7 linked regions of the Homo sapiens genome follow. The protein of the gene in region 5 purifies or fractionates together with the protein of the main gene of each other region. This does not show direct contact. Each region holds a gene or a part of one and is shown on either strand. Other genes may lie near its edges. The genes, in order: ADNP, RAVER2, SATB2, PATL1, QPRT, ACTR6 and CRY1.

Evidence for each region.
Region 1: the proteins of QPRT (region 5) and ADNP purify together in Homo sapiens (affinity purification with mass spectrometry; 3 studies listed by BioGRID and IntAct, with this or other methods). This does not show direct contact.
Region 2: the proteins of QPRT (region 5) and RAVER2 purify together in Homo sapiens (affinity purification with mass spectrometry; 3 studies listed by BioGRID and IntAct, with this or other methods). This does not show direct contact.
Region 3: the proteins of QPRT (region 5) and SATB2 purify together in Homo sapiens (affinity purification with mass spectrometry; 3 studies listed by BioGRID and IntAct, with this or other methods). This does not show direct contact.
Region 4: the proteins of QPRT (region 5) and PATL1 purify together in Homo sapiens (affinity purification with mass spectrometry; 4 studies listed by BioGRID and IntAct, with this or other methods). This does not show direct contact.
Region 6: the proteins of QPRT (region 5) and ACTR6 purify together in Homo sapiens (affinity purification with mass spectrometry; 3 studies listed by BioGRID and IntAct, with this or other methods). This does not show direct contact.
Region 7: the proteins of QPRT (region 5) and CRY1 purify together in Homo sapiens (affinity purification with mass spectrometry; 3 studies listed by BioGRID and IntAct, with this or other methods). This does not show direct contact.

What each region holds. Positions count from the first base shown.
Region 1 is NC_000020.11:50,893,260-50,897,388, forward strand, and holds part of ADNP (activity-dependent neuroprotector homeobox protein), read right to left. Parts: intron 1,254-4,129; coding exon 1-1,253.
Region 2 is NC_000001.11:64,803,706-64,807,834, forward strand, and holds part of RAVER2 (ribonucleoprotein PTB-binding 2), read left to right. Parts: intron 1-1,028; coding exon 1,029-1,133; intron 1,134-1,285; coding exon 1,286-1,400; intron 1,401-3,500; coding exon 3,501-3,769; intron 3,770-4,129. UniProt on the Homo sapiens protein: May bind single-stranded nucleic acids.
Region 3 is NC_000002.12:199,455,001-199,459,885, forward strand, and holds the start of SATB2 (DNA-binding protein SATB2), read right to left. Parts: upstream 2,940-4,885; 5' UTR 2,339-2,939; intron 1,097-2,338; 5' UTR 1,038-1,096; coding exon 869-1,037; intron 1-868. UniProt on the Homo sapiens protein: Binds to DNA, at nuclear matrix- or scaffold-associated regions. Thought to recognize the sugar-phosphate structure of double-stranded DNA.
Region 4 is NC_000011.10:59,665,876-59,670,467, reverse strand, and holds the start of PATL1 (protein PAT1 homolog 1), read left to right. Parts: upstream 1-1,430; 5' UTR 1,431-1,572; coding exon 1,573-1,587; intron 1,588-3,503; coding exon 3,504-3,615; intron 3,616-4,592. UniProt on the Homo sapiens protein: RNA-binding protein involved in deadenylation-dependent decapping of mRNAs, leading to the degradation of mRNAs. Acts as a scaffold protein that connects deadenylation and decapping machinery.
Region 5 is NC_000016.10:29,685,462-29,689,590, forward strand, and holds part of QPRT (nicotinate-nucleotide pyrophosphorylase [carboxylating]), read left to right. Parts: intron 1-4,129. UniProt on the Homo sapiens protein: Involved in the catabolism of quinolinic acid (QA).
Region 6 is NC_000012.12:100,214,137-100,218,265, reverse strand, and holds part of ACTR6 (actin-related protein 6), read right to left. Parts: intron 1-4,129. UniProt on the Homo sapiens protein: Required for formation and/or maintenance of proper nucleolar structure and function. Plays a dual role in the regulation of ribosomal DNA (rDNA) transcription.
Region 7 is NC_000012.12:106,995,912-107,000,040, reverse strand, and holds part of CRY1 (cryptochrome-1), read left to right. Parts: coding exon 1-99; intron 100-178; coding exon 179-490; intron 491-1,974; coding exon 1,975-2,126; intron 2,127-2,350; coding exon 2,351-2,553; intron 2,554-2,654; coding exon 2,655-2,747; intron 2,748-4,129.

The sequences.
Region 1 (4,129 bases), on a different chromosome or scaffold from region 5:
TGTATTTTCATAATGTAGTTGGCTACTGCTGGGACTTTCTCAGCTTTATGTTCTTTTTCGAAGTGCACACTATAGACATTTTCAGGAAAAAGCTCATTACAGATTGTACATATTTTCCACTTTTGAGTTGAGGAAGTGTTACCTGGGGGAGGGCCTGTGGCAGCTGCAGCAGGTTTGGAACTGGACTGACCTAACACTCTGGATGCCTGTGACTGAGAGAGGGAAGGAGACTTTAACTGGCCCGATGAGAGAGAAGAGGCATTAGCAGACTGCAGGGAGTATCTTGCTGGTGCCTGGGACCTCTGCTCTGACCCAAGCCCATAAGACCTTCCGTTTCCACTTGGAAGTAACTGCTTTACAGACTGAGATTGTTGAGGAATGGAAACTGGTGCGTTGCCACCTAGACCCAGTCTCATTGACTGACCAACACTGTAACCCTGGCCTACAGATTTGACTCCATAGTTGTTCTGCTGCAGATGAACACTGGACATCATGTTGACTCCTGTAGAATTTAAGTTAGGCTTTGGTATTGAGAGTCGATTCACCATCTGCTGTGATGGTAAAGACCGGACATTTCCAGAAGCAAGGGAACCGATCCTTGGTGGGAGTCCCATGCTCTTCTTGTCTTGAGGTTTGGGAGCAATTAGCATCAAGGGTTTGGATCGGGGAACCACTACATTTGTGTGCCCAATCATGGCAGTGACCTGATAGCCTATACGTTCATGGTCTTCGATGACATGCTGTACCAAAGCTTCATAGGACTTTGGCATGAAAAGGCATCGCTTGCAGTGAATACTACTCTCTTCTCGGGCATTCGAGCCTAAGGGGACTGCCCCATTGAGTGATTTTTCTCCTGCCTTTGCTATGTAAGGTGCTGCCACATGCTGAAAATGTTCCCTGTAAATGTGCTTCCTAACTATTTCATAAAGAGGATCTCGGTAAGTGCACTTCTTACAGTAATAAACAGCTTGCTCTACACTGTCAGCCTGCTTAGGTTTAAGGCCATCATTTTTGTTTTTATCTTTGAAAGTGCTGAGGCTGCTACTTGGTGCGCTGGCGTTCGGAGCATGAAATATTTTAATGTGTGTTTCCAAAGTCTTTTTGTCTGCATTGAAGGTACAGTAGGGGCAATTAAGGAGAATCCTATTTTCAAAGTCTTCACTATGGACATTGCGGAAATGACTTTTGTAGGCAGAGAAGAATTTTGAGGAAAATGGACAAGCGCTGCAGCAGAAAGGTTTTGTCCGATAGTCCTAAAGTAAACACAAAAACTAGAATTAGAATGCCACTTCAGATAGGCAGTTAACAGATTCCAGATCCCCCCCGGATATTCTTAATAATGCATTGATTTTAGGCCGCGCGTGGTGGCTCACGCCTGTAATCCCAGCACTTTGGGAGGCTGAGGTGGGTGGATCACCCAAGGTCAGGAGTTCAAGAGCAGCCTGGCCAACATGGTGAAACCCCATCTCAACTAAAAATACAAAAAAATAAGCTGAGCGTGGTGGTGGGCGCCTGTAATCCCAGCTACTTCAGGAGGGTGAGGCAGGAGAATCGCCTGAAGCTGGGAGGTGGAGGTTGCAACGAGCCGAGATCGGCCATTGCACTCCAGCCTGGGCGACAAGAGCGAAACTGTCTCAAAAAAAAGCACTGATTTTAGTATGTTTTCCCCTTTTGTATAGTAACTTTATAAAATAGAAACTCAAAAAAAAAGCTATCTTAAACCAAATATTTTTGTCAGTGTAAATTAAAAAAATGCTAAGTTCTTTCTCAATGTTTAGGGAAAAAAAGTCACATTTTAGCTAAACCAAAGACAAATGACTTGAAGATAAACATTTTGCAGCTAGAAATAACAAGAATAACCTAAATGAAGGAAGTTACTAAAGACTTCAGGTTTACTATACAGTCATGTGTTGCTAAACCACAGGGATGCATTCTGAAAAATGTATCATGGTGTGAAATCCTCAAGTGTGTATTCACACAGACCTAGATGGTAGAACCTACTACACGCCTAGGCTACATGGCATAGCTTATTGCTCTTAGGCTACAAACCTGTACAGCATGTTTCTGTACTGATTACCATAGGCAATGATTAACACAATGGTAAATATTTGTATGTTTAAACATAGCTGAGCACAGAAAAGGTACAGTAAAAATACAATGTAAAAGATAAATGATACCATGAACAAAGCTTACAGGACTAGAAGTTACTCTGGGTGAGTCAATATGAAAGCCTGGGACATTACTGTACACTACTGTAGACTTTATGAACACTTAGGCTACACAAGTTTTACTAAAAAAAAAATTTTGAGACAAAGTCTCACTTTGTTGCTCAGGCTGGAGTGCAGTGGCACAATCGGCTCACTGCAGCCTCAACCTCTTGGGCTCATGCGATCCTCCCACCTCCGCCTCAGTCCTGGGGACTACAGGTGTGTGCCACCACACTAGGGTAAATTTTGTAGAGACAGGGTCTCCCTCTGTTGCCCAGGCTGGCCTTGAACTCCTGGGCTCGAGCAATCCTCCCGCTTTGGCTTCCCAAAGTGCTGGGATTGCAAGCCGCTGTGCCGAGCCCTAAAAAATATTTTTTCTTCAATAATAACCTCAGCTTGCTGTGGTTTATACACTTTTAAATTTTTAACTTTTTGACTCTTTTGTAGTAATACTTAGCTTAAAACACAAACAGATTGGCCAGGCACAGTGGCTCACACCTGTAATCTCAGCACTTTGGGAGGCCCAGGCGGGTGGATCACCTGAGGTCAAGAGCTTGAGACCAGCCTGACCAACATGGTGAAACCCTACCTTTACTGAAAATAAAAAAAATAGCTGCACATGGTGGCAGGCACCTGTAATCCCAGCTACTCGGGAGGCTGAGGCAGGAGAATCACTTGAATCCAGGAGGCAGAGGTTGCAGTGAGCCAAGATCACAGCACAGCACTCTAGCCTGGGCAACACAGCGAGACTCCGTCTCAGAAACAAACAAAAACCCCCAAAACAAACACATTGTACAGCCGTACAAAAATATTTTCTATCTTCATATGCCTATTCTATAAGCTTAAAAAAATTTGTTTTAAAAAAAAACTTTCCCAGCACTTTGGGAGGCCAAGGCAGGTGGATCACAAGGACAGGAGTTCGACACCAGCCTGGCCAACATGGTGAAACCTCATCTCTACTAAAAATACAAAAAATTAACCGGACGTGGTGGCAGGCGCCTCTAATTCCAGCTACTCAGGAGACTGAGGTTGCAGTGAGCTGAGATCGTGCCATTGCACTCCAGCCTGGGCGACAAGAGCAAGACCCCGTCTCAAAAAAAAACCAAAAACTTTAAAAACATTTTTTTTCTTAAAAGCTAAGACACAAACGCATACGTTAGTCTAGGCCTACAGAGAGTCAGAATCAACAGTATCACTATCTTCCACCTTTACATCTTGTCCCACTGGAGGGTCTTCAGGAACAGTAACACACATGGAACTGCCATCTCCCATGGTAACAATGCCTTCTTCTGGATAACTGCAGAAGGACCTGCCTTAGGCTTTTCTTGAGGAGGTCTCACACTTACCAAGAATAAGCCCACGGTGCTTTGTTTCCTTTTTTCATCATAGATTTGATTGTAAGCAGATAATGAACCATGAATATTCTTCTCTATTAATAAAAACCTTTTGGTATTGAGATCCATGTTTTCAAACTTTTTTGTTGTTGTTTGAGATGCAGTTTTTTTGCTCTTGTCACCCAAGCTGGAGTGCAATGGCACAATCTCGGCTCACTGCAACCTGCACTTCCCGGGTTCAAGCGATTCTCCTGCCTCAGCCTCGTGGCTGGGATTACAGGCGCCCCACCACCACGCCCGGCTAATTTTTTTGTATTTTTAGTAGAGACGGGGTTTCACCATGTCGGCCAGGCTGGTCTTGAACTCCTGACCTCAGATGATCCACCAGCCTCGGCCTCCCAAAATGCTGGGATTACAGGCGTGAGCCACCAAGCCCGGCCACGTGTTTTCAGACTTAAGGAGCTTGCTGAGGTCTGCACTGCTAAATCCTTCACTGAATTTTCTTGAGGGTTCTTCTTTTGCTTTTCCTGCAGTTTCCTTTTCTCTTTCCTCTTCACCTATGCGGGAACTTGTTCTAGTTCCCACAGC
Region 2 (4,129 bases), on a different chromosome or scaffold from region 5:
TGGTGATACATTATAGAGTTTTTATTCATTCATTTACTCAATGTATTTTATTGAGTATCTGACATATATGTATTAGACATTGTGCTAATCATTGAGGCTACTGTGTGGAATGTAACATTTAAAGTCTATGTTATTATAGAATTTCAACCAGTAGGGAAAACACATTAAACAGTTAATTACAATAAGGAGTGGAGAGTAATATGAGAGGGGAAGTTCAGAGTATTGATAATATTCCCTGTGTTTTAAGAGAAACACCAAAATGCATTACCTTTAAGGCCCATACATTTGAGCTGGCCCCTCCTGCCTCTCAACTCACTGCAGATCGCTGTCCCACTACAACAGCCTGGTTTTGGTCCTCAAAGGACCTTGTTTTTTCCTCCTTTGGTCTTTTCTCCTGCTGGTCCTTCTTCCTGGAACGCTTCCCACCCCAACATCACCTAATTCCCTCCCAGACTTCAACTACAGCCTTCAGATTGCAGTACAATAATTAGTTCCTCCAAGAAACCTTCCTTGAATCTTCCAGGCTAAATAGCATTCCTCCACTATTTGTTCTTATAGCCCCCTGTATTTTTCCTTCATGTGATTACCATGTGTAATCCTGTGTTTTTTTTATTAATTAATGGCTCCCTTCCTTAGGGGATTGTAAGATCTATGAGGGCAGATCTTATTGTACTTCTCACTAAGTAGCACAGTGCCTAGAACATAGAAAGTGCTCAATAAACCTTTGTTGAATGATTAAATGAATAAATAAATGAATGAATAGAATGTCACTGTCATTGAAACCAAAAAGGGTTGAGAGGAGGGAACGAAGGATGAAATAATGTAGAATTATTTCATGACTGCATGGCCCCCTCTTGTGTATTATTAAAATAATTAATTAGCTTTGTCTGATAAGTTGGAGAGTGAAATATGTTTAGAAGCAGTTACTTTTACTCAGATCGACTGGAGAATTGAACTTCAAAATGAATTGGGTTATACAACATGTAGCTTTTCAAAATTAAACTGACAACGTTTTGTCATTTTCACAGAGCTCAGTTATGGGTAATACTTCTAATTTATTCCTTCAGAATCTTTCTCATATACCACTGGCACAACAACAATTAATGAAGTTTGAGAATATTCATACTAATAATGTAAGTATGGTATCATTTTTTCTTTTAAAATCAGTTCATTTCTTTTCTAGAATCAGGCTGTGGATCAGGTTGTTTATGAATTTTCACGTGTGTAGCTTTTTTTAGGTTATATCTTATGGCCATGGGTCTTACCTTTTTTTCTTCTTTTGTAGAAACCCGGCTTACTTGGAGAGCCCCCAGCTGTGGTACTTCAGACTGCACTAGGGATAGGGTCAGTGCTTCCATTGAAAAAGGAGTTGGGACATCATCATGGAGAAGCACATAAAAGTAAATGATGTGTATTTACTGAGAAGTCAGTAAACAGTCAGGTTTGAGATTTAAAGATAGTTTACCTATGTTCTAATTTTATTTACAGGGAGGTCAAATTTGAGTTTTATTTAGTCATTTAAAATTTTGAGAACCCTCTTGGCTTTTCGATTTTCAATATTGGTAAGTTACTGATGGACTTGCTTCCATGCCAAGATAAGACTTCCCCTATTGGATATGCTTTAATATTTTATGCAGGTTCACAGCAGTACAAGGTAAAGACACAGATCCATTTGAGACTGACATGCTGCCCACTGGGCTGACAGCACATATGGATCCATGTAATTATTGCTGGGATAAGAAACCATTCACTTTTATTTTTTAAAATCTAGTATTTATAAATTTAAAGTTTGATTATTTATTTGTATTATTTAAAAAAATTTAACCTCTAAATCAGTAGTCAAAACTAATGTGTGTACTATGTGCTTCTAAAAACATGGCAAACAAAATAGCTTTTTTGGCAGGAAAACAGAAGCATGGTGTTATACTAAGACTTCTTATTTGAATGTGATTTTGAAGGGCATTTTCAGCTTGAAGCTTAATTGAAATTTGCTTAGAAGTGAGCATGCTGAGTAAAAACAGAAGGGCCACCAATAATTTAAAAAAAAGTCAATTAAATATGCGTAGCTTACTTAACCTTTTGTCCAGTGATCAAATAACTTAGTTCTGACTGTTGAAATTGACTGGACAAAAGTTAAGCCAGTGAAGAAATTTTGTGATATCATGGGGTCTGTATTTCCAAAAAATTAAATTTTTTATGTCTAAAAGCTTATGCAAATATGTATTATTTGTGTTGGATTAACTAATAAATTATTTGCTTTAGTATATGCCGCTTTAAGAACACTGAAAAGTCAGTGTCCAAATAACTATATTCTAAACGTTAGGGGAACCAAAGTATCCATCTCTAAATGATTATTACTAAAAATAATTGAAGAAATTTGTTTAGTAAATTTATAAAATGGTAAATCTGACTTAGTTGTCAAAATTAGCTTTTTCCATTTAATTTTGACCTATAGATTTTTTAAAAAGTGGAACGGTTCAGAATTTTCCTATTAAAACTTTTATTTGCCAGCCTGGGCAACATGACAAAACCCTGACTTTACTAAAATGCAAAAAATTAGCCAGGCATGCTGGCACACGCCTGTGGTCCCAGCTACTCAGGAGGCTGGGGTGGGAGAATCACCTAAGCCCAGGAAGTCGAGGCTGCAGTGAGCCATGATTGTGCCACTGCACTCCAGCCTTGGCGATGGGAATGAGACCCTGACTCAAAAAACAAACAAAAAAACCCTTTTATTTCTTCCAGAATTTCTTGTTATTTTCTGTAAATAAAAACATAAAACTTTCATGTATTTAGTGCTTATCTATTAACAAATACTGATTTAAAAAAAGAAACCAGTGATATGCTGATAAGTGTTTAACAACCAGCTCTCTAGGTTGAAAAAAAGGGCTTGATTTGTAGCATTTGTGCATTTCTGTTTGTGAATACTCCAGCTGTGACTGATTTCAAGTTACCAATATGAAGACACTTAACTTGATAGCTGGGAAGAGATGTGTATTAATAGCTCTCATGAGCTGATGGAAGCCAGCTAACCAAATTTATTATTGGAGTCAATCAAACTTCATTAAATTTTAATTTCAGATAACTTTTTAAACTTAAAACTTAATTATTTCCTTCAGTTATGGAAACAGTCAAGTTGCAATGACTGGGCATAAAAAAAAGCACTAATACAGCTTAAATGCCAAAAAGTACATAAACTTTGCCCTCAACTTTAACAATATATAATTAACAATTATATATAGAATTTAAAAACTTAAAAATTCCTTATCATTGAGGTTACCCTGAAAGTTGCTGAAAATAAGAGCATTATTACTATTGTAGGTTTTTGTTTTTTTCATAAAGGAACCCACTAATTAACAACCTCTAACCTTACCTTTTGCTGTTATCTAACAGGTACAAAATTGGTTTCTCTGCATTTTGCTCATAACTTAACAAAATTAAAAGGACTATTGTGAATAAATATTTTCTAACTAAAAGCTTTTTGCATTTATGGTTTGCTACAGCATCTAGCCTGATTCCAACTCAAACAACGATAACAGCTGGAATGGGCATGTTACCATTCTTTCCAAATCAGCACATTGCTGGACAGGCTGGGCCAGGGCACAGTAATACTCAGGAGAAACAGCCAGCCACGGTGGGAATGGCAGAAGGAAATTTCTCAGGGTCGCAGCCTTATCTTCAGAGCTTTCCAAACCTTGCTGCTGGAAGCTTGCTGGTGGGACACCATAAGCAGCAGCAAAGCCAGCCAAAAGGCACAGAGATAAGTTCAGGGGTAAGAAAACTGTGGGTGCACACAGATGTATATATACATGTATATGTATATATATTCCTTTTAAATTATGTCTTAAATTGTCGTGTCAATGAAATGATGACTTTTTCATAGTTTACATTTACTTTTCAAAATTGAAGAAAACATTGCATTCTTTTAAAAAATCTGTTATAAATAAAGCAAACAAAAAATCCATTTTTTGATAAGTTATGCTAGCTGGCATTTGGGACTATCTTAATTATTTGCCAGTTTGTAAGTAAAGTAATTTTAATTTGTGTAAAATGAGTTACGTCTCTTATAAATAATTTAAATGTGGATTCTTTATTCCTTATAAGAGAATAAGGAATTTCCAAAAAGTTTGTG
Region 3 (4,885 bases), on a different chromosome or scaffold from region 5:
TGCATGCCATGTGGAATTGTGGATTTTACATGTAAAAGACAACTAAGCAAATGGCATACAAACTCCAAAATATTTCAATGTTTAAATTTCTCCCATATCTTTATTTTGTATGATTGCTTTTCCTGACCACTTTAAAAGAAAGTAGTTGCTTAAGTAGTAAAAACTACAAAAGATTTTCTTTAAATAAAATTATTAATAAATTCTTTGGAGGGGAAACTACATCTAGTTGATAAGGCTACTTTGCTATTTTTATCTGTTCTCCTATAATTCATAATAAAGTTACGAATGCATATGACTAAACTTTATAGACAACAGCAGCATTTAAGCTTCTAAGGGCCTGATGGATTCATGGTGATTCTTTATTTCCCACATTTCACGTGGCAGGAAATATTCCCAGTTGTCATTCATCTGTCTTGAAGCACTGTCCTCACTACAAAGTAACATCAACTCTCCTTGTTCCTGTACTCGCCTGAGCATTAATGACTATTTTATTCCCTAAAAGCGAACGCACGTGAACTTCATCCCTACAACAGACACTCCGAGGCAAGGCAAAAGAGTTAAATCACTAAAAAGCTCTCTAGGAAAATCTAGAAACAGTTAGCTGGCTGTGACATAAACCTGCCAACACCTCAGCACACAGTGGCAAAATGCCCAAAAAATGCCACCCTCTGGGTAAAACCACTTTCTTGTTTTAACTGGAGATGAAGCTACCAGTTGCAGATGAGAGGCGACGGGGGCATTATTTGGCAACCTGGAATTCACTTCCTGTAATCCTACACCGCGACAGCGCCTAATCAACCTGAACCCTGACACCCGGGCCATTATCACTGGGCCGCGGGCTGCGCGCCTCCCTGCTCCGGGCTGTTACCTCCCACGGCCTTGGCCACGGCGCCGTTGGGCCTCCCGCGGGCTCCCATGGGGCTGCCGTTCTGCTCCAGCCGGGCCACCTTCACTGGGGGAGGCCCCTTGACGTCCGGGCTGCCGCTCCGCCGGTCGGGGCTGTCCCGCAGACACGGGCTCTCGCTCCGCCGCTCCATGCTGCTCCGACTCGGAGACAAAGTTCCCACCGGCAGGTCGCAATAAAACGCACAGGGACCTAGGGAGGGGGTGGGGGGAGGAAGGGGGAGGGAGAAAAAAGAGGGAAAACCGCTCATACACGTGATAGACGTTCAGGCCAGTGGCAGAGCGCTGCACCACAGCCACACAAACTTCCTCCCACGCTGCCCGAGGGGCCCGAGCCGGGAAGCCGGTCCCAACCTTACACTGGGCGGCCCCCAGGAAGCCCAGCGCCTCGGTTCGGCGACTCTGCCCAGTCGCAGCTCCCCAGAAGTCAGCCCTCGGGGTCGCGGCCGGGGTTGGCACCCAGGGGCGCCTAGAAGTGGTCCATTCATTGGGACGGGGTTGGCATAAACCGTTCCTGGGTGCTACAGCCTAGCCCGTCCCGGGGTCAGGGTTGCGGAATAAGTGAACTTCAGAAAAAGACGTTCCACCCACATGGGAAGGGAGTTGGGGGTGTGCGCAAGTCCATAACCGAATTAACCACCCGGTAAATGCGCTGTGAATGGCCAGGCAGGAGCCAAAGGCCGGGCGAAAGAACCCCTTGAATACCCGCTTTTTACCTATACGGAGCAAGTCCTGAGATAAGCACACACCTGCATAAAATCAACCCTAATTCCACATTAATAAGCATCCGAAAACACTTGGAGGTATTTATCAGAATAACCTCCATCACAAAGGCGGGCGCTACAATCGTTATTATTTTGGAGCGTTCTTATCTTCATCTGATCCCCAGTGCTTTTTTAAAGCTCTTCAATATAAAACACAAAAGCAAAAAGCATTTGAATTCTTAGTGCAAGAGCAGCCTTCATCCGCCCCAATTTTAACATCGCTCCAGAAAGTTTTCCTCTGGGTCACTAGGTTGGCAGTGCGCTCCCCACGGAAGCCGCAGGTCTCGACACCCCTGGATTGGGGGGGTGGGGGGGGGCGGGGAAGGAGGGGAAACACCTGATGAAACGGCGCTCGCGTTGTCACTGACACCCGCAAGAAGCAAGACCCCGGCACCGTACTGCGTGCGCGCTGGGAATCCTCGTGGGCGCTCTGGCCGCGCGAGCAGTGTCGGCGCCACGGGTCAAGGAGACAAGGTGGGGGTGGCAGGGGGAGGTGAAAGGAAGGATGCGAGATGAAGACACGGAGCAGGAGGGCTGAGGGCGAGGCTTCCGCCTGCATTCCCCGACTTCGCGGTCCGAGAGGCCGAGAGCGGCGGGGAGGGGACTTCGTTGGCCCTGGGCTTCCCCGAACTCCCGAGCGCGGCGCGGGAGCCCTCGCCCTGCGTACTTACTGCTCACGGTCTGTCTGAAACTTGGCTGACTGGGGCTCTGTCCATGGAGCAAAAGTAGAGAATCCAGGGTGGAAAGTTTCTGGTGCTTGGCTTTGCAGTGTTCTCCTAGTCTTCCTCTTTACTCCTTCCCCTTCCCTCTTCCCCAGGTCCTAATGTTTAAGGTCCTGGGTCAGGGTGTCTTCTTCTGGTGCGGAGATGGTTGTTATGATGATGATGGGGGGAGGGAGGAGGGGGAGGAGGAGGAGAGGGAAAGGACTCCTCCAAAGGGACACCCGAGCGAGCGGGGGAGGGGACGGCGGAGGAGGGGGGAAGAGAAGGAGGCTGAAAGAGCCTTTTCACACCTTCGGGAAGGAGACCCGTTCTGGAGAGAAAGGGCTGAGAACCCGGAGGCGGCGGCGGCGGCGGCGAGCCGGGGCTGCTGGTTCGCAGGGCGGCTAGCTCGCGAGGAGGCGCGGCCAGAGCGGTGGGACCGGTAACACCAAGAGCCGAGAAGACGCAGGGACCCGGGACCGCGCGCGGGAGGAAACGCGGCGGCCGCCCAAGCTGTCACCTCCAGCCTCTCCCCTCTCGGCCGCCTCTGCCAGCAGCCAGAGCCGGACTCACTGACAAGCCGCAGAGAGAGACACACTGAGAGGGAGATGATTATTAGTTGCGTTGAGTCATCAGGCAAAGTGAGTCCTTTTGGGTTGTCCTCGGTTTCCGATTTCTCCCCCTCCCCCTTTCGGTCCCCAGATCTAGCGCCTTCAAAATAATAATTTGGGGTGGGGGTAGGGGAAGTCTCTGGATTATTTCGGGATGGGGGTGGGGGGGATGGATCTAAACCCAAGCCAGACTGGTCCACCGCAAGAAAAGAGGGGAGTGGGGGGCGGGGAGGAGGGCTGGGGAGGTTGCGGGGGGAGGGGGGCCCCGCCTGGCAGGAAATTAAACATCAATCAATCAATCGCTGTGAGCACGGCGACCCAACGGCGGCGGGGCTGCGAAGGAGGCAGAGGGACAGGCGAGGGGCGGGTGGGAGGCAGGGAGGAGGGAAGAGGAAGGGGAGAGTCGGCGGTCGGAGCGGGGTGACGAGGACCTCATGCACGAGGCGGCGAAGGACCGATGGCAGAGAACCGAGTGCGGCGCGAGGCGGTGGCCGCGGCCAGCGGGTGGGTGCGTCTGGGCGCAGGCGGGCACCGGGGCCCAGGGTCTGGTCCTCCTCCTTGTGGCGGGTCCAGGGCGCGGCCGCCTCGCCCAGCCCCTAGGCGCACTCGTCCCGGCGCGGAGGCGGCGGCGACAAGGCAGTCGCTGGGTGCCGCGTCTGCCGGCGGAGACGCAGACCGACGCGCAAGAGGCGACCGCGGCTGCCTCGGCTCCCAGCTCTGTTAACTGCGCGGAGTACTTTCGACTTTGGAGATAGGAGGGCGATCGCCTCCCCCACCCACCGCCTCCGCCCACCACCCACCGCCTCCGCCCCTCCGAGCAACTTTTCCCGGTGCCTGCGAGCTCCCCCTCCGCGCCGAGCCGAACGTCCCGGCCCGCCGCGCTTCGTGCCGCCGCGCGCGCAGGGAAGGCCGCTTCTCCTTCAAAGCTGGCACGGCCGCGAGTCCGGAACAATAGTCGGGGTGTCCCGAATGCCAGGAGCACGGCCACTGCCCGCCGGGCTGTGGGTGGCACAGGAATGGGGGTTGCGTGGTGGATGCAGAGCGGGGTGCATCCCTGGATGGCATCGCTGGAGCGCTCGCCGCTCCGGCGACATCGCGAGCGGTGCAAACCGGGCCGCCTGGAGCCCGTGACGCGGTGGCGGCGAGGGCGGTGGGGCTGCCTGTCCTCGGGCTACAGGACTGGGGCTCCTGGGGACCCCAAGCTGCTCGAGCCCAGGGCTGCTGGCGCCAACAGAGCTGTGCCCTGAGGACCCGGCCTCCCCGCCCGGGGGGAGGCCGCACAGGAGCGTCCCCAGCAGGTCCCGCGAAGGCGTAACAGAGCCACAAACTTTTGCCGACTCCCGCGGCCGCGGCCGCCGGCAGCCCGACTCCGGCCGCGGTGCTCATTTAAGGTGGCGCGGGCACTAGCCGAGCAGGCTGGCCTCTGGCCGCGCTTTTGTCCCTGCGATTCCGCTTGGGCGCGCTGCCTCCTTAAGGAAAAGCACGTGGGCAGGGGCCGCAGCCCCCGCGAGATACCCGGGGCGTCGGCGGACATTAGCCGCTAGGACCTTAGGCGAGAAAATGTGGACGCATCCCCGCCGGCCCTGAGGCCAGAGAATCCCCCCTCAACTGGTTGCACCTCATGTCCCTCCCGCACACGTTGACTCTCCCTCCTAATCCCCAGGACCCCGAGGGCTCTCCCACATCTCCCGCAGCAAGAGCCACCGATCCCCCTTAAGAAGCGTTGACTGTACGGCGGCGCCAGAGGGCCAAACTAAGTTCGGTTTCGGGAAACGCTCTCGGGAGCAGTTCTGTAAATCCCTGCTGGGAGCAGAGACTGCGAAAAGCTGAGTCCGCCGATCGTGCCCGGGACAAGGCTGCCTTCCACTCGCCCTCGCCGCATCTACCTGGTAGGCGGCATGCGCAC
Region 4 (4,592 bases), on a different chromosome or scaffold from region 5:
CAGGCCTGGCCCATGTCAACATTTGCTTTTGTTATTCTGGCACAGTGATTAAGACACTCGGTTTTTAATAATCAGACAAATCTCAGCTGCTAGCTTTACCACTTGCCATTGGGTGGTTGGAGGCAAACAATGTCGCTAATCCTCAGGTTCCTCAACTGTAAACTGAGAAAATAACAGTACCTACCTCATGGGGGGCACATAAGGAAGGATTCAATGAGATAATCCATTTTATAAAGCGCCTAGCAGAGTCCCAGGCAGCCTTCAATCGTTAGTAGTGTTACCATCATGAGGCAGGTGTAATTATACCCATTTTACAAGAAACTAAGGCTCAGAGAGGTTTAGGTAAGTTGCCCAAAGTTTCCTAGCCAGTGGCAAAGCACAAGCTCCCACCCAGAACTTTTCTTCACAAATTCAGCGTTTCCGATACTCAAACTGATCCAGACACACTAACATTTAGGGGATTTACTGTATGCCATTCCGAGACGAGGCTGCATTTTAAGACGCCCAGGGAAGAAACGGATTGCGAAACCCAAAAGAATTCATTCTTTGTGCTGCAAGTTTTGTCTGAAAGGAAAGGGGCAAGAAGGGCATGGAGCGTGCTAGAGGTAACAAACCACCCAACAGAATTCTGGAACCAGGGGGCCGAAGCTTCTAAGCTGGACACATTCCTCTGTGGGTTCGATCCTCTAAGGAAGTGGAGTCACCCAGCGGCGCACCACGGCCCGAAGACCCTGCTGCTGCGTGGCCAGCGGCCCACGGCCGTGCGGCCCTTCGAGGCTCTGCAGCTCCTCGCGCCTAATGAGCCTGGCGCTTAAAAATACCACCCTAGTTAAACCTCCCGGAACCTGTCTTCAGCATTTCAAAAAAAAAAAAAAAAAAAACGGGCGCCGTCATCACTTTGAGCCACATAAATCACAGCCCTGACCTGCTGTGGATTCAGCAGGCGACGAGCCGCTGAAAGTGGCGACGAAGTCCGCCCCTTTCGAAGACCAGCAACTTTCCATTCTTTTTTCCCTGCGCAAGGCGCAGATTGCAACGGGGAGACCCCCGAGCAGCCTGAGGAGTGAGTCGGACGTTGGAAAAACTGCCCGGGAATCTCATCTTTCCCAGCCCAGGCTAAGCGCAGGATTCTTCAAAGCTATATCCTGTGACAATCACAAGGGTTTTCTCCGCCCCACGGGTGACGGAGAACTCGTGACCGGCCCCTGAGCTCCAAGCCGAGCGCCTAGAGGGCGCGGAGAAAGAGGGGGCGGAGCTACAAGCCCAGATCACCAGGCAGCCGAAGACGGGCAGCGCGTGCGCAGTCTCTCGCCACGGGACCTCCTTCCCGCCGCTGAGACTAGGAAGCGGGACGCCAAATCTGTCCCTGCGCAGCCGCCGCCGCCGGGCGCCGAGCGGGGTGGCCGCCCTGCCTGAGGCGCGCCTGCGCACGTCCCCACGCACGCTCCGGCGTACGGCGGCGGCCAGGGGTCGCGAGCCGGTGGAGGACCCGCGCGCGGAGGAGCCGGGGAGTCAGCGCTTCTTCCCTCCCTCCCCCTCTCCCCTCCCCGCTCCCTGCCCCCCTCCCCAAGAATGTTCCGCTACGAGGTGAGCTGTTGCGACCGGAAGTGACCCCTCCCTCCCTCCCGCGCCCCTCTCCCTCACTCTCTCTCCGCGCGCCGGTCCTGTGTTCCTGCGGGGCAGGGGGCGGGCTGGGGGAGTCGCAGGACTTAGCTGGACGCGACTGGTCTGGGGTCGCGGGTCTAATCCTAGGGCTGGGAGCTGGCTTCATGGGTCGAGACAGTCCCATTAGTTGCCGCTGGGGAAAGTTGGCCTCCGTTTTGGGGTGGGGAGGGCCCGTTAAGTGCTGTAACCAGACCACACCCCCGCCCCCACCCCTAGAGGAGCCACGGAGGGTAGAGCACTGCATCTCCCCGGGTGCTTTTCTTAAGTAGGTGTCACCCGGGAATTCCCAGAGCCGCGTTTCCCGCCCTGGACCCGGAACCACCCCCCACCCACCTCCACTCGAATTACACTGACACACATCCCATTCACACAGGCTACCTTCAGGTGAAGGGGGCCTGGGCTTGCCGTTGGATTAGGGCCCCAGCCCGTTTACTAAAGAGGGCTCCGAGTTGGGAGGGGGGCGTGTCCTGCAGAAGTTCCTTCTGGGCTAGTGCTGGGAGACGCGGGTTTGGAGAAGGTGCCGGGAATGTAGCAATAGCAGCAGACAGTACTGACCCTGTCACCAACTCACTGTGTGACCTTGAGTGACTCCTAATCTCTGGACGTAAACTTTCTGAATTTGTAGCATGAAAGAACTGATGTAAATGATCCTTAAGAATTTTTAATTTAAAAAAGCAGCGATTTGGTAAAGTAGATATTTGTGATTTGGAAGGGAGTACTGCTGGAAGTTGCCTCTGATAAGGAGGCAGTGGCATGCCTATTGGCATGAGTTTGGAAGGGCTCTGGGGTAAGAAGAACGCCCTTTGACCTAATCTTTCCATTGTAAACAGGGTAGCTAAGAGGTAGCCAGGCAAGGTGTATCACAAACGTACCTACTGATAGAATATGGAATTCTGATTCTGAATTTTTGAAAATTGAGGACAGGTATACTTGATAGGAATGATCTAAGACCAAACCAAAAGGAAAACTTGGAGAATAAATCAGTTGAGTAAGATTGAAGTAAAGGGGGAAAATAGAACACACCTAGGATGTGGTGGCCTCTAGCCTTTGTTCGATAATCTGTAATCTTTGCCCACTTTGATCATCACAACTCTCTGCCATAGTTGGTATTGTCCCTGCATTACAATGTAAGACATTGAGCCTTACAGCCTAGCACAGAACCTTAGACGCAATAGGTCCTTAAAAGGTATTTGATGAATTAATTAGAAATTTTCTGAGTTGCCCATGTTCACACTGATTGTAGGAATGGAGCCAGAACTTGAACTTGTCATACCACAGCTTTTCCAGAGTTCATTTTATTGTGGTTGAAGACCTAATTTTCTGTTTCATCACTAGAGTTTAGGCCTATAGGGAAGATAAGAAAGATGGAAAATGAAGACAAAGCTTTAAAACGGAATAATAGTTGAAAAGATGACATGAATATAATGAGAAAGATGAGAATTTTGCTGGAAAAGATACATAAAGATACAAGAAAATAAAGGGTTCATTATTAATTGTCATCAGTATTCCAACCAGTGATGTAAGGAAAGTTGTGGGCTTAATTTCTTGGTTGCATGAGGAACTGCTGTTCGTGGATTCTTGATAAAATAGAGAAATGGAATGCTGTGAGGTGGGGCAAGAATTAAATGAAATAAGGATTAGGAAATAGAAAGTGAAAGAAAGATGATGAAATCTTCCAGTGTCAGGGAAATTGGGAAGTAGAAAAAAAATGCCATCTTTACAAAAAGTCATAATGAAGCAATTATGTTCATTGAGAAGGTAAGATGAACATTTTTAGAACATTTTTAAAATGAGGGTGTGAATTTCATGAATAACTAATGTCTTTTCTTTTTTTTTAGTCTTTGGAGGATTGTCCTCTGGATGAAGATGAAGATGCATTTCAGGGACTGGGAGAAGAAGATGAAGAGATTGATCAATTCAATGATGATACATTTGGGTCAGGTGCAGTTGGTAAGTGACATCTTTCGCTTATAATATCATCTTAGCCTCCTGCTCTTTTCAAGTGCTGTCTTTTAGAAGTGCTTTATCTTATTAGGGGTAACCTTATTCACTAACTTGGCAAGATATTCTTCTATTCCTCATCTTAGAATAGTTCATTCTTCACTGGAAACAGCACCTATCCTGCTCCTCTGGGTCTCTTTTTGCCTTACCTATAAAATCAGGTATTCTGTAAGCCTTGCCCCTTCCAGCTATATGATCGATGACTACAGGTTGCCCCTATGAGGGATTCAAATGTTTAGAGAAGTAAACATTTAAGAGAGATTTAAATTAATCCTAGATGAGAGGAATTTTTATTTGTATAACATATAACTTATGGAAAACTAGTGTACTAGTAGAAAATTCAGATTCTAGGATGTGGGTATATGTGTTTCAAAATTTAGTCTATCACTAGTATATAACTTTGCAACTTATAGTATCTTCAAAATATAAAGCTTTTTATAGCAAGAATTTTGGGGGTCAAGAAAGGACTCATAAGTTAGAAAAGTATGCACAGATGAAATTTTGTCCATCCCTGGGTATAGATACATATTATTTATTTATTTATTTATTCTTTTTCGAGATGAAGTCTTGCTCTGTCACCCAGGCTGGAGTGCAGTGGCACGATCTTGGCTCACTGCAACCTCCGCCTCCTGAGTTCAAACAGTTCTCCTGCCTCAGGCTCCCGAGTAGCCGGGATTACAGGTGCCCGCCACCACACCGAGCTAACCAGGCTGGTCTCAAACTCCTGACCTCGTGATCCGCCCATCTCGGCCTCCCAAAGTGCTGGGATTACAGGCCTGAGCCACCGCGCCCAGCCTATAGATACATATTTTAAGAGTTGGAAAAAGTTTAAAAACTGAAGAGCCAAACTAAGGTTACAGGCCACGGGGTTATAAATGCCAAGATGGAAAATTTAGGAAGTAAGCTTATATGATAAAGTTTGAGAA
Region 5 (4,129 bases):
CCGTCTCAAACAAAAAAAAATTATTTGTGGAGGCAGGGTCCCACTATGTTGCCCAGGCCTCAAGTGGCCCTCCTGCCTTGGCCTCCCATAGCACTGGGATTACAGGTGACAGCCACCGCGCCCAGCCTACTTTTTGTCTGGCCAAGACTACCTCAGCCTTCTTTTGCCTCCCAATCTGTCTCCAGTTGGTGGCTGAAGTGACCCTTCTGGAGCAAAACCATAATCATATCACTCCCTCTTTTAAAATTCTGTGATGGGTCAGGCATGGTGGATCACACTTGTAATCCCAGCACTTTGGGAGGCCGAGGTGGGAGGACTGCTTGAGCCCAGGAGTTCAAGACCAGCCTGGGCAACATAGCGAGACCCCCCGTCTCTACTTAAAAATAATAAAATAAAATGAAAAGAAAATTTTTTTTGAGATGGAGTTTCGCTCTTGTTGCCTAGGCTGGAATACAATGGTGGGATCTCAGCTCACGGCAACCTCCACCTCCCGGGTTCAACCGATTCTCCTGCCTCAGCCTCCTGAGTAGTTGGGATTACAGGCATGTGCCACCATGCCCGGCTAATTTTGTATTTTTAGTAGAGACGGGGTTTCACCATGTTGGTCAGGCTGGACTCGAACTCCTGACCTCAGGTGATCGGCCCACCTCGGCCTCCCAAAGTGCTGGAATTACAGGTGTGAGCCACTGTGTCCGGCCAATAAAATGAAATTTTATGATGGCTTCTGCGATCTGGCCAAATTCCTCAGCTAAATAGTTTAGTTCTTTCTCCCTGTGGCCTCTCCTCCCACCATGTCACCTGTGAATCCCACACTGCCCCCACCCCGACACTGTCTGCAGGTGAACAGATCAGTTTTCTCAGCCCCAAATGTCAGCCCCACCCCACACCTCTGCCTGGCAAACATCACTCACCGGTCCTCAGAGACACCTAGTCATTTATTCCATGAGTCCACCACACTTGAGAAACGCTTCTTTTCTTCGCGAGCACGCCTACCCTGTGCTAGACAGTGTTCCTAAGGGCTTTCAAACATAAAGTCTTTTGTTTTTTGTTTTTGAGACGCAGTCTTGCTCTGTCGCCCAGGCTGGAGTGCGGTGGCACAATCTTGGCTCACTGCAACCTCCGCCTCCCAAGTTCAAGCAATTCTCTGCCTCAGCCTCCCGAGTAGCTGGGATTACAGGCGCTCGGCTTTTTATTTTTTTAATTTTTTTTATTTTTTGTATTTTTAGTAGAGACGGGGTTTCACCATCTTGGCCAGGCTGGTCTTGAACTCCTGACTTCAAGTGGTCCACTTGCCTCGGCCTCCCAAAGTTCTGGGATTATAGGCGTGAGCCACTGTGCCCAGCCTCCAACTCCTGGCCTTGTCTTCCTCCCACCCTGGCTTCCCAGAGTGCTGGGATTAACAGACATGAGCCTCCACACCTGGCAACTTCTTTCCATTTTTCACTGATTCTCTGACACATCCTCATTGAGCACCTGCACTGTGTGGGGTGTTAATAATTGCTAGGCATGGAGGCAACAGCGTGGGCAGCTCTTTCTCTTACTTGTCAGGCTTTAGCCTATGCTGTTGCAGGACTGTGCCTTGGCCTGGAAGCCCCTTCCCTTATCCTCATCCCCAATCTCCCCCTTCAGCTCTTGTTCCTCTTGCAGGTCTTCCCTTAAACATCACTTCCTCAGCAGGGGCCTCACAGACACGCCCGGAGGTTAGATCCTGGTCCCTCTGTGCTTCCTGTTCTTCCCCCATCATCACAGTCTACGGCTGTTTCCTCTCGATGGGCAAAGACTGTGTCTGGCCATTGAGTTTTCTGCTATATCCAAGTGCTTCGTATACTGAACCATATAAATGTGCTGCTTTTATTGGTCAAAACGGCCAAATATTGGCAATTTTATATTGGTTAGCTTCATAGTATGTGAGCTAGGATACTTATCCCATCAGAGAGGTTGCGTAGCACAGTGAATCAGAGCCCAGGCTCTGGGGCCGCACACCTGAGGTCCAGCCCTGGCTCTGCCACTTGTCACTAAGTGATTGTGGACTGGAGACAACCCTCAGGGGCCTTGGGTTCCTAATCTGTGACAGGGATGACAATAATGACCTCCTCGTGCTGTTATAAAATACAGAAATGTACTAAAATACAAAAATTGGCCAGGCATGGTGGCACATGCCTGTAATCCCAGCTACTCAGGAGGCTGAGGCAGGAGAACTCAGGAGGCAGAGGCTGCAGTGAGTCTACTTTTATTGCCAAAGCTCGGGGGTCCATCCCTTTTCCATTGCATGCCACTGCACTCCAGCCTGGGCAACAAAGTGAGACTGTCTCAGAAAAAAGAAAAAGAAAAAAATGTTTAAAAGCCAGGAGTTTGAGACCCTGTCTCTATTAAAAAAAAAAAAAATTACCTTGGCATGGTGGAGCAGCTACTCAGGAGGCTGAGGTGAGAGGACCACATGAGCCCGGGAGTTCAAGGCTGCAGTGAGCCATGATTGCACCACTGCATTCCACTCTGTCTCAAAAAGAAAGAAAGAAAAAAGTCAAGAGAACTGGAGCTGAAACCATGAAAGGTCAGTTTTCAGCAGGAGAGTGATCAAAGAAAACCAGAACTAGACAGTCGTTAAAATAGCAAAAACATATTGCATTCCAGACTATTGCTGTAGGGGAAGAGTGACCTTAGATCAGAACTGGGCTGAACTCTACACCATGGGGGTTATAGCCAACGAGCAGAGTTGGGGGCAGTGGATGGGACATTACCATGAGAAAGCACTGGGGGTTGGGGGTATTCTGACAAGACCAACCTAAAGGGATTCTTGCTGAGGGCAGGCCAAGGTGGTCAGACAGCGCCTGGGGGAGAGTGGAGAATGAGGACCCCCATCAGGGATCGGGGGCAATCAGATGTGGAGGATGAGGGACTGGCTAAGCTGACTTAGCAGTATTCTTGCTAAAATTGGACGATGCAGAGGTGAACACGGAAGTCCAAGGCCTAACTGGAAAAGAGCTGAGGGAACCTGAGTGAGGTTTGGCTATAGACAGAACCTCTGAGTGAGCCCATCAAAGTTACTTTATTTATTTGTTTGTTTATTAATTTATTTAAGACAGAGTCTCACTCTGTCGCCCAGGCTGGAGTACAGTGGTGCTATCTCGGCTCACTGCAAACTCTGCCTCCTAGGTTCAAGCAATTCTCGTGCCTCAGCCTCCCGAGGAGCTGGGATTACAGGCACATGCCACCACACCCAGCTAAGTTTTGTGTTTTTAGTAGGGACAGGGTTTTGCCATGTTGGACAGGCTGGTCTTGAACTCCTGACCTCAGGCTAATTTTTTGTTTGTTTTTATTCTCTTTTTTTTTTTTTTTGAGACTGAGTTTCGCTCTTGTTGGCCAGGCTGGAGTGCAATGGCGCGATATTGACTCACTGCAACCTCTGCCTCCTGGGTTCAAGCGATTCTCCTGCCTCAGCCTCCCGAGTAGCTGGGACTACAGGCGCACACCACCATGCCCGGCTAATTTTTGTATTTTTAGGAGAGACGGGGTTTCATAATATTGGTCAGGCTGGTCTCAAACTCCTGATCTCAGGTGATTCGCCTGCCTCAGCCTCCCAAAGTGCTGGGATTACAGGCGTGAGCCACCGCGCCCAGCCTTTTGTTTGTTTTTAAATTTAACTTTTTTTTTGAGACCGAATTGCACTCTGTCACCCAGGATGGATTGCAATGGCGCAATCTCAGCTCATTGCAACCTCTGCCTCCTGGGTTCAAGAGATTCTCCTGCCTCAGCCTCCCAAGTAGCTGGGATTACAGGCGCCTGCCACCACAGCTGGTTAATTTTTGTGTTTTTAGTAGAGATGAGGTTTTGCCATGTTGGACAGGCTGGTCTTGAACTCCTGACCTCAGGTGATCAACCCACCTTGGCCTCCCAAAGTGCTGGGATTACGGGCATGAGCCACCATGCCCGGCCTTAACTTTTATCTTAAGTTCAGGGGTACATGTGCAGGTTTATTATATAGGTAAACTTGTGTCATGGGGGTTGTACACATTATTTAGTCACCCAGGTATTAAGTTTAGTACCCATTAGTTATTTTTCCTGATCCTCTTGAGGGAAGAGAGAGACCCTCTCATATTGTTTCATACTCAGAAAAGGAAAGAGAAGCGAA
Region 6 (4,129 bases), on a different chromosome or scaffold from region 5:
TGTGTGGCTGCCTTTACTGTTGCCAAAATCACACAAAACACAACTAAATAATTACTGACGCTAATATGGCTGTTCCTTCAAAGATAATTTGGCAGCTTTATTCCACACACTTTAAAATACAAAGAGGGCCAGGTGCCCTGGCTCACACCTGTAATCCCAGCACTTTGGGAGGTCAAGGCGGATGGATCACTTGAGCCCGGGAGTTCAAGACAGCCTGGGAAACATAGCGAGACCCCCGTCTCTTAAAAAACAAAACAAAAATTAAAATACAAAGAAAAAAAGGAGGAGAGACAAGAGAGAACTTCATAATATACCTATAATGGTACAATGATTCTAGTTTCTAGGGAACAAAGAACACATTCTAAATAAAAAACATTTACTATGTCTTGTGTTTCTAGTACTGTCTACTTTCACTCCCCTAATTTAGGTGTTTACTGGATATGTGGCTCTATTCTATTAGGATTCCCCCTTTCCCTTCTGGAAAGAGCCTACATCTCTACATTTCTTTAATATGTATTCAATCTCTATTCAAAATTAGTTTCCAAATGATGTAAGCAAGTCCATGGTCCTTATCCTTGAACTTACCTTATAATGCTAACTTTATATGAGGCCTATGTATAACAAACTTTAAACAACCATGACTCATATTTTCTTGTTATTTATTTTCTGCTAACCCACCCAATCTGTGAGCTGTAGTGCTGAGGGGGCTGCAAAAATAATCTCCTTCCACAATATTCTAAATCATTAAAATAATGGTCCCTCTCAATTTTACAACCATCAGCTTTCCTAGATTCAGGTAAAGACATTCATTTCATTTGACTTATAAATGCAGTTGTCCTCCCATAAAAGGATAGGTCCCTTAATATAATCAGCCATCTACTCTCTATTCAGATTTCAGCTTCCTGAGAGGTTTTCTCTGCTTCCCAAATAAAAAGATCCTTCACTATTCTCTATCACCCTATATTATCCTTCATAGCTTATATTGTTCACCATCACATATCCACTAACTATCATAAAAAAGTACCTGGCACACAGTAGATACTCCATGAATTCTTGAATAATAGTAAGCAAGACAGCAACATGTCATTCATTAAACATATTACATACATTATCCCACTGAACTCTCATATAACCCTGTAACACGGGCATATTTTCCTTTTAAATTAATGATGCAATTGGGCTCTGCAAGGCTACATTACTTGTTCAAGGTCATTCATATCATAATCCAAAGCACATACAAAATATTCCTTCCATGATACTACCACTCATAACCTGGATATAAATGGTTAGATTTTGATCATTTGGGAATTCCATGCTCAAAACATTATTCTAAAATAAAAAATATCCTGAAAATTATACAGTATTCACAAATACTCCAGGAAGAACAGAAAACTATAAATCACTTTTAACCCAGAAAACTATAAATCACTTTTAACCCAAAATATTGTTATATAGTAACAAAGAGAAGAATATTATGCCTCATAGAAGTATTCTTCCTTCTCAAGCAGAATGGAAAATATTTTCTATGAATTTACAAATTCATTAAATTCCAGCCATTCACTGACTTGAGTTTAAGGGATATAACTCATTTTATCAACATTCAAAATAACCTGAGATAGTTGCAGACTTAGGAATTTCAGTTGACAAAACATTAGAGGTTATCTAGTTTATAGCCCTGATTGACAGAAGAGGATCATGTGACTTATTCTAGATTAAATGACTAACTAGGGGAGAGAGCCAGAACTAGACATCCTTGTTAAATGTTAGCACTAAAGCCATTAACCATTAACAAGTAATCTGGAGGCTGGGCACACTGGCTCACGCCTATAACCCAGCACTTTGGAGGCCAAAGCGGGAGGATCACTTGGGCCCAGGAGTTGAGGCTAGCCTGGGCAACATAGATGAGCGTGGTACCTCGTCTCTACAAATAACTTTTTAAAAACTTAGTCAGGCTTGGTGGTGACCATCTGTGGTCCCAGCTACTTGGGAGGCTAAGGTGGGAGGATCACTTGAGCCTGAGAGGTCAAAGCTGCAGTGAGCTGTGATCACACCGCTGTGCTCCAGCCTGGGCTATAGAACGAGACTCCGTCTCAAACCAAACAAAAAGTTAGTTCCAGTACAATTAAAGAAATGATCAGTGTATGTTATACTGGCTCTGCAGAAAGTGGTAATCCATGATGAGGACGATTTTCTCAATTTAGGTCAGTCGAATTCATTATACATTAGTAGGCTTCCTCTTTCTGATAAGAAAGAAAACTGGAATTTCTATTGGTTGTTATCTGTAATGATATTACAGGCCTATTTTTATTGCTATTGTTACTACCATTAGTGCTAGAAAATCAAGTATGTAACTTCCCCCAGCTACTTAAAAATATTCTTGAAACTATCAAAATTCAAGTGTTAACAAAACCCTAGGAATAAAGGCTCTCAAATAAATATTTATTTTAATCAAGTATTAAAATCAAAACAATATAAAAAATTCCAATATATAAAATACAACTGTTTCTAAATCTTTAAAAAATTATTAAGATGATTTAACACAGACTCTGAATAAGGTGTACATTTTAACGAAATTGACAAAGATTAAACCATTCTTTCTACAATAAACATTTGCGGTAACACTGTATCATCTGCCAAAAGCCCAGTTCCAACTGACTTTGTCCACTCATCTGCTATTAAAATACACATTATATATGAGAATCAGCAACAGAGTGTATCCTGAGTAAATGAAGCCCACACAGTCCATAACCAGATTGTGTTCACAAGGTCAAAAGCCAATAAAAAACCTTATATGGCTTCTGCCTTTTCTAAAGATGAGTAAAGTAATGGTCAACTGGGAGAATAACCACACCTCTACTGGCTTATTGCATAAGGTACTCACTTGAGAAAACACGGCTTATGATTTGGCAAGGAAGAAACTGGCAGAGTTTAGAAGAAAATGTCCAATAAACAAATAGGTTGTAATTTGCAGGGAAGGAGAGTTTTTCTAAAAAGAAAGATTTCCTAGTTGACTATCCAATCATCTGGAAGAGGTTTTAAGTTTTCAAACTTATGAAACAGGCAATTCTAGGAAGAGGAACTGAGAACACGGATACAGGTTTTGTTTTGTTTTCAAGTGCCCCAAGAGATTCCAATGATCAGTCAGATTTGAGGAGACTGGAAATCACTGAGACTTTACTCAGATCCATCTCTGTAGAAATCAGGATTACTTTACCCCTATTAACCCTATAGAGTACCATAAAATTTCCACAAGGTATCAGCTATAAAATATGACAATAATCAAATGTGCCTAGTAAGAAAGAGGTTTGGTATTTAAATGTTTGGGGCAGTTTTTCTTGTCTTGTGAAGAAGAAAAAAAATACACCTTCCGTATCTTAGCCAGGACTTGGGCTTCCAGTTTCTCTCTACCTGATACATGCCCAGGCAACCTTATCCCATCATCTATCTCAATTCCCATTTCTGAAAGCCAGCCTAGGTCCTTTCATAAGGATCTGTTTCACTTTTTGTTTTTTGTTTCTTTTGTTTTTAAAGAGACAGGATCTGGCTCTGTTGCCCAGCTCTGGAGTGCAGTGAAATGATCATAGTTCACTGTAACCTCAAATTCATGGGCACAAGCAATCCTCCCAACTCGGCCTCCTGAGTAGCTAGAACTACAGGTGTGTGACACCATGCCCAGCTAATTTTAATTTTTTTTTTTTTTTTTGTAGAGACAGGGTCTCACTTTGTTGCTGAGGCTGGTCTCAAACAATCCTCCCACTTCAGCCTCCCAAAATGCTGGGATTATAGGTAGGTGTGTGCCACCACACACAGCCATAAGGATCTGTTTCTAAGAACATAAAAGGATGATTTCAGTTTTATAAGGCCCCAAGTAGTCTCTGAACTCTGATTCATACTTCACCTCAATAATCTGGCCCAAAAAAATTCACTTTTGTTTTCAGGCATACTAAGTATAAATAATTATATAAAACCCATGTATTCACCAACCAGCTTAATGTAACTTTACAGATAAGCTGACACTCCCCTAATTTGGTATTTTATCATTCACATACATAGTTTTTTATACTTTTACTTCATATTTAAGTATACCTTAATAACATATTATTATTCTCACCAAAAAGAGAACATAATT
Region 7 (4,129 bases), on a different chromosome or scaffold from region 5:
TCTCTGCTTGCAAGCCCTACTGGACTTAGTCCTTATCTCCGATTTGGTTGTTTGTCATGTCGACTGTTTTACTTCAAACTAACAGATCTCTACAAAAAGGTATTCTCTAAAATTAGAGCTTATTGTTTAATACTTTAAAAAAAAATTCTGATAATACTTCTTTGCTTTTTAACCATAGGTAAAGAAGAACAGTTCCCCTCCCCTTTCCCTTTATGGGCAACTGTTATGGCGTGAATTTTTCTATACAGCAGCAACAAATAATCCACGCTTTGATAAAATGGAAGGAAACCCTATCTGTGTTCAGATTCCTTGGGATAAAAATCCTGAGGCTTTAGCCAAATGGGCGGAAGGCCGGACAGGCTTTCCATGGATTGATGCCATCATGACACAGCTTCGTCAGGAGGGTTGGATTCATCATCTAGCCAGGCATGCAGTTGCTTGCTTCCTGACACGAGGGGACCTGTGGATTAGTTGGGAAGAAGGAATGAAGGTAAGTGTTCTAACTGATATAGCATGCCTTATTTTGAAGGAATCCTTACCTTAATAAAACAAATCCTAGAAGTTGTCTGTTTATAGATTCATTTATGGTGTAGTTTTTCAGTGGATAAAACATTTAATTCCCCAAATACGGGGACACTTTCAGAGAAAAATGGTATAATCAGACAAGCAAAAAGGTGAAAACTGGTTAAATTGATTAACCTAAAGTCATTTTAATGGTTAAACCAGCCTAGCCACTAAGAGAACTGTAAAATTTAACACTGAATTTGTTGATAGATATATTTATAGGTGATATTTCTATCACGAAAAGAATTCACTAAAGAGTTCCTAGAGATAGTGAATTCATATTATAAATTTTAAAATATAAATCATTTCACCTCACTTCTCAGCTTTTTAGTAATACTTCTATTATGTAAAGAGAAGCATACTACATTTTGTGACGACATCTTGTGGATTACACGTAATAAGACTTAGGTACTTTTTTTTTTTTTTTTTTTTTGAGACGGAGTCTCTCACTCTGTAGCCCAGGCCGGGGTGCAATGACGTGATCTCAGCTCACTGCAACCTACGCCTTCCAGGTTCAAGTGATTCTCCTGCCTCAACCTCCCGAGTAGCTGGGATTACAGGTGCCCACCACTGTGCCCAGCTAATTTTGCATTTTTAGTAGAGAGAGGGTTTTACCATATTGCCCAGGCTGGTCTTGAACTCCTGACCTCAAATGATCCCCCTGCCTCAGCCTCCCAAAGTGCTGGGATTACACGCATGAGCCACCGTGCCCGGCCATTACGTACATTTTTTACCTTTCTGGCAATACCATACATTTGCCCCATCCAAGGACCATTTCTGAGCTTGTGTGTGTGTGTGTGTGTGTGTGTGTGTGTGTTTAATCTCTTATATTTCCTAGTACACCGTTGTATACAAAGACAATATATAACATACTTAATGAATATATATAAAAATCATTTATTTTAATTCTATTTTCTTTCTGATCAAGGAATTCGAAATTAAACTATGTAATGCTAGTATATATTTTTAAGTGAATTTATATTTGAGTATGCTTCCTTTATTTAGGCTAGAATATGAAGCTAAGTTTTTGTTGGTGTTTTATGTAATAGCATTTTTGCTTTCTTGAAAGTGGTTGACTGCTTTTCCTGTGTCTACTAATAATATCCTTTTAAATCCACATCCTTTTAAATCAGTGATTTGAATATTTTTTTTACCTTCCATTCTCCCAGTAACACTGCAGAGGTTGGAAAAGTAAATTCTCTTCAGAAGCATACTATATTACCACTATGTTTCTTTCTCTGGAAGAGCTCATTATAGAACAGAACATAGGGAAGCTAACTTTGGAATGTTTAATTTTACAATTCTGTGCTAGATTTTCTTTGCCTTGACTTTGGCTCTACTGTGACCTTGAAAATGCTTGCTTTGCGAATTATGTGTGTGCAAACTAATTGGTTACTGTTACTTCTGAAGGTATTTGAAGAATTATTGCTTGATGCAGATTGGAGCATAAATGCTGGAAGTTGGATGTGGCTGTCTTGTAGTTCCTTTTTTCAACAGTTTTTTCACTGCTATTGCCCTGTTGGTTTTGGTAGGAGAACAGATCCCAATGGAGACTATATCAGGTAAATCAAGGGTGATTACTACTCAGTTTGGAATAGTTAATTCAAGAAGAGCTTTTCATGTTTAATCAATGCTTAAAGTATTCCCCACTCATGATGGGCAGCAGAGATGAGAAGGGTAAACAGATCATTTAAATGGTCTTGATTTGATTTTGGTCTGTCATAGCTAGTAGTTATAGTTTGCTTAGAGTGCATTTTATTAGTAATCTTTCTTTTTTCTCCCAAAGGCGTTATTTGCCTGTCCTAAGAGGCTTCCCTGCAAAATATATCTATGATCCCTGGAATGCACCAGAAGGTATCCAAAAGGTAGCCAAATGTTTGATAGGAGTTAATTATCCTAAACCAATGGTGAACCATGCTGAGGCAAGCCGTTTGAATATCGAAAGGATGAAACAGATCTATCAGCAGCTTTCACGATATAGAGGACTAGGTATGTTAAGAACTGTCTTTGTTTCTTTGGCAGCTGTTTATGTACTTATCTTTGAATTTTATCTTGATCATAATTTAAAAGAAAATTTTTTTGTCCTTTAGGTCTTCTGGCATCAGTACCTTCTAATCCTAATGGGAATGGAGGCTTCATGGGATATTCTGCAGAAAATATCCCAGGTTGTAGCAGCAGTGGAAGTAAGTGAAAAGGAAATTTCTGCACTTAGTAACATGAAGAGGTTATTAAACAAATATATTTGTTATTGATCCTCACTAACATATTTTATAAAAATCTGTCTTTGAAATTAGCTTAATAGATTCTTTGTATGCATGCATACATGTGCACCCAGACACATCTCTTCACTCCATTGATGACATTTTAGAGATGGAAAATATCATTACGTATAATAGATACTGGGTCAAGTTAAAGCTCTTGCAAACTGAGGAGAGCAATTTTAAGGATAAAATGAAACTCAAATGTCATATTTTCAGAATGCTTATTATTTTTTACTCCTTAGGTGTATGGCAACTATAAGGTAATTAGTTAAGAAAGTCAGTGGCCCTGTGAACATGGCCAAAAGATTTATTGTACACATGCATAGAGCCCTCTAGTCTTTTTGCACATAAGTTTTTCTTATAAAGTCTGGTCTGTAGTAGTTTTCTGTATGATACAAATTTAGTGACCATGTAAATTCTTATGTGTGATATTAATAATTTCAGGAACTCAGTATGTGTTAGAAATTTGAACCATCATATTAGTTTTTGGCTTTGACCAAAAATAGCATGAAGCTCAGTAATTTGATTAAAAAATAGGACAGCATCAGTGAGAATGGTGATTATTAAAAAGTCAAGAAACAACAGATGCTGGTGAGGATGCAGAGAAAAAGGAAGGCTTTTACATTGTTGATGGGATTGTAAATTAGTTCAACCATTGTGGAAGAGAGTGTGGTGATTCCTCAAAGATCTAGAAGCAGGAATACCATTTGACTGAGCAATCCCATTACTGGGTATATACCCAAAGGAATATAAATCATTCTGTTATAAAGATACATGCACACGTATGTTCATTGCAGCACTATTCACATTAGCAAAGACGTGGAATCAACCTAAATGCCAGTCGATGATAGACTAGATAAAGAAAATGTGGTACATATGTACCATGAAATACTATGCAGCCATAAAAAGGAACGAGATCATGTTCTTTGCAGGGACATGATGGAGCTTGTAGCCATTATCCTCAGCAAACTAAGGCAGGAACAGAAAACCAAACACCTCATGTTCTTGCTTGTAAGTGGAAGTAGAATGATGAGAACACATGGATACATGCGGAGAACAACACATACTGGGGCCAGGTGCAGTAGCTCACACTTGTAATCCCAGCACTTTGGGAGGCCGAGGTGGGTGGATCACCTGAGGTTGGGAGTTTGAGACCAGCCCCTGACCAACATGGAGAAACCCCCGTCTCTACTAAAAAGACAAAATTGGCCGGGCGTGGTAGCGCATGCCTGTAATCCCAGCTACTTGGGAGGCTGAGGCAGGAGAATCACTTGAACCCAGGAGGCAGAGGTTGTGGTGAGCTG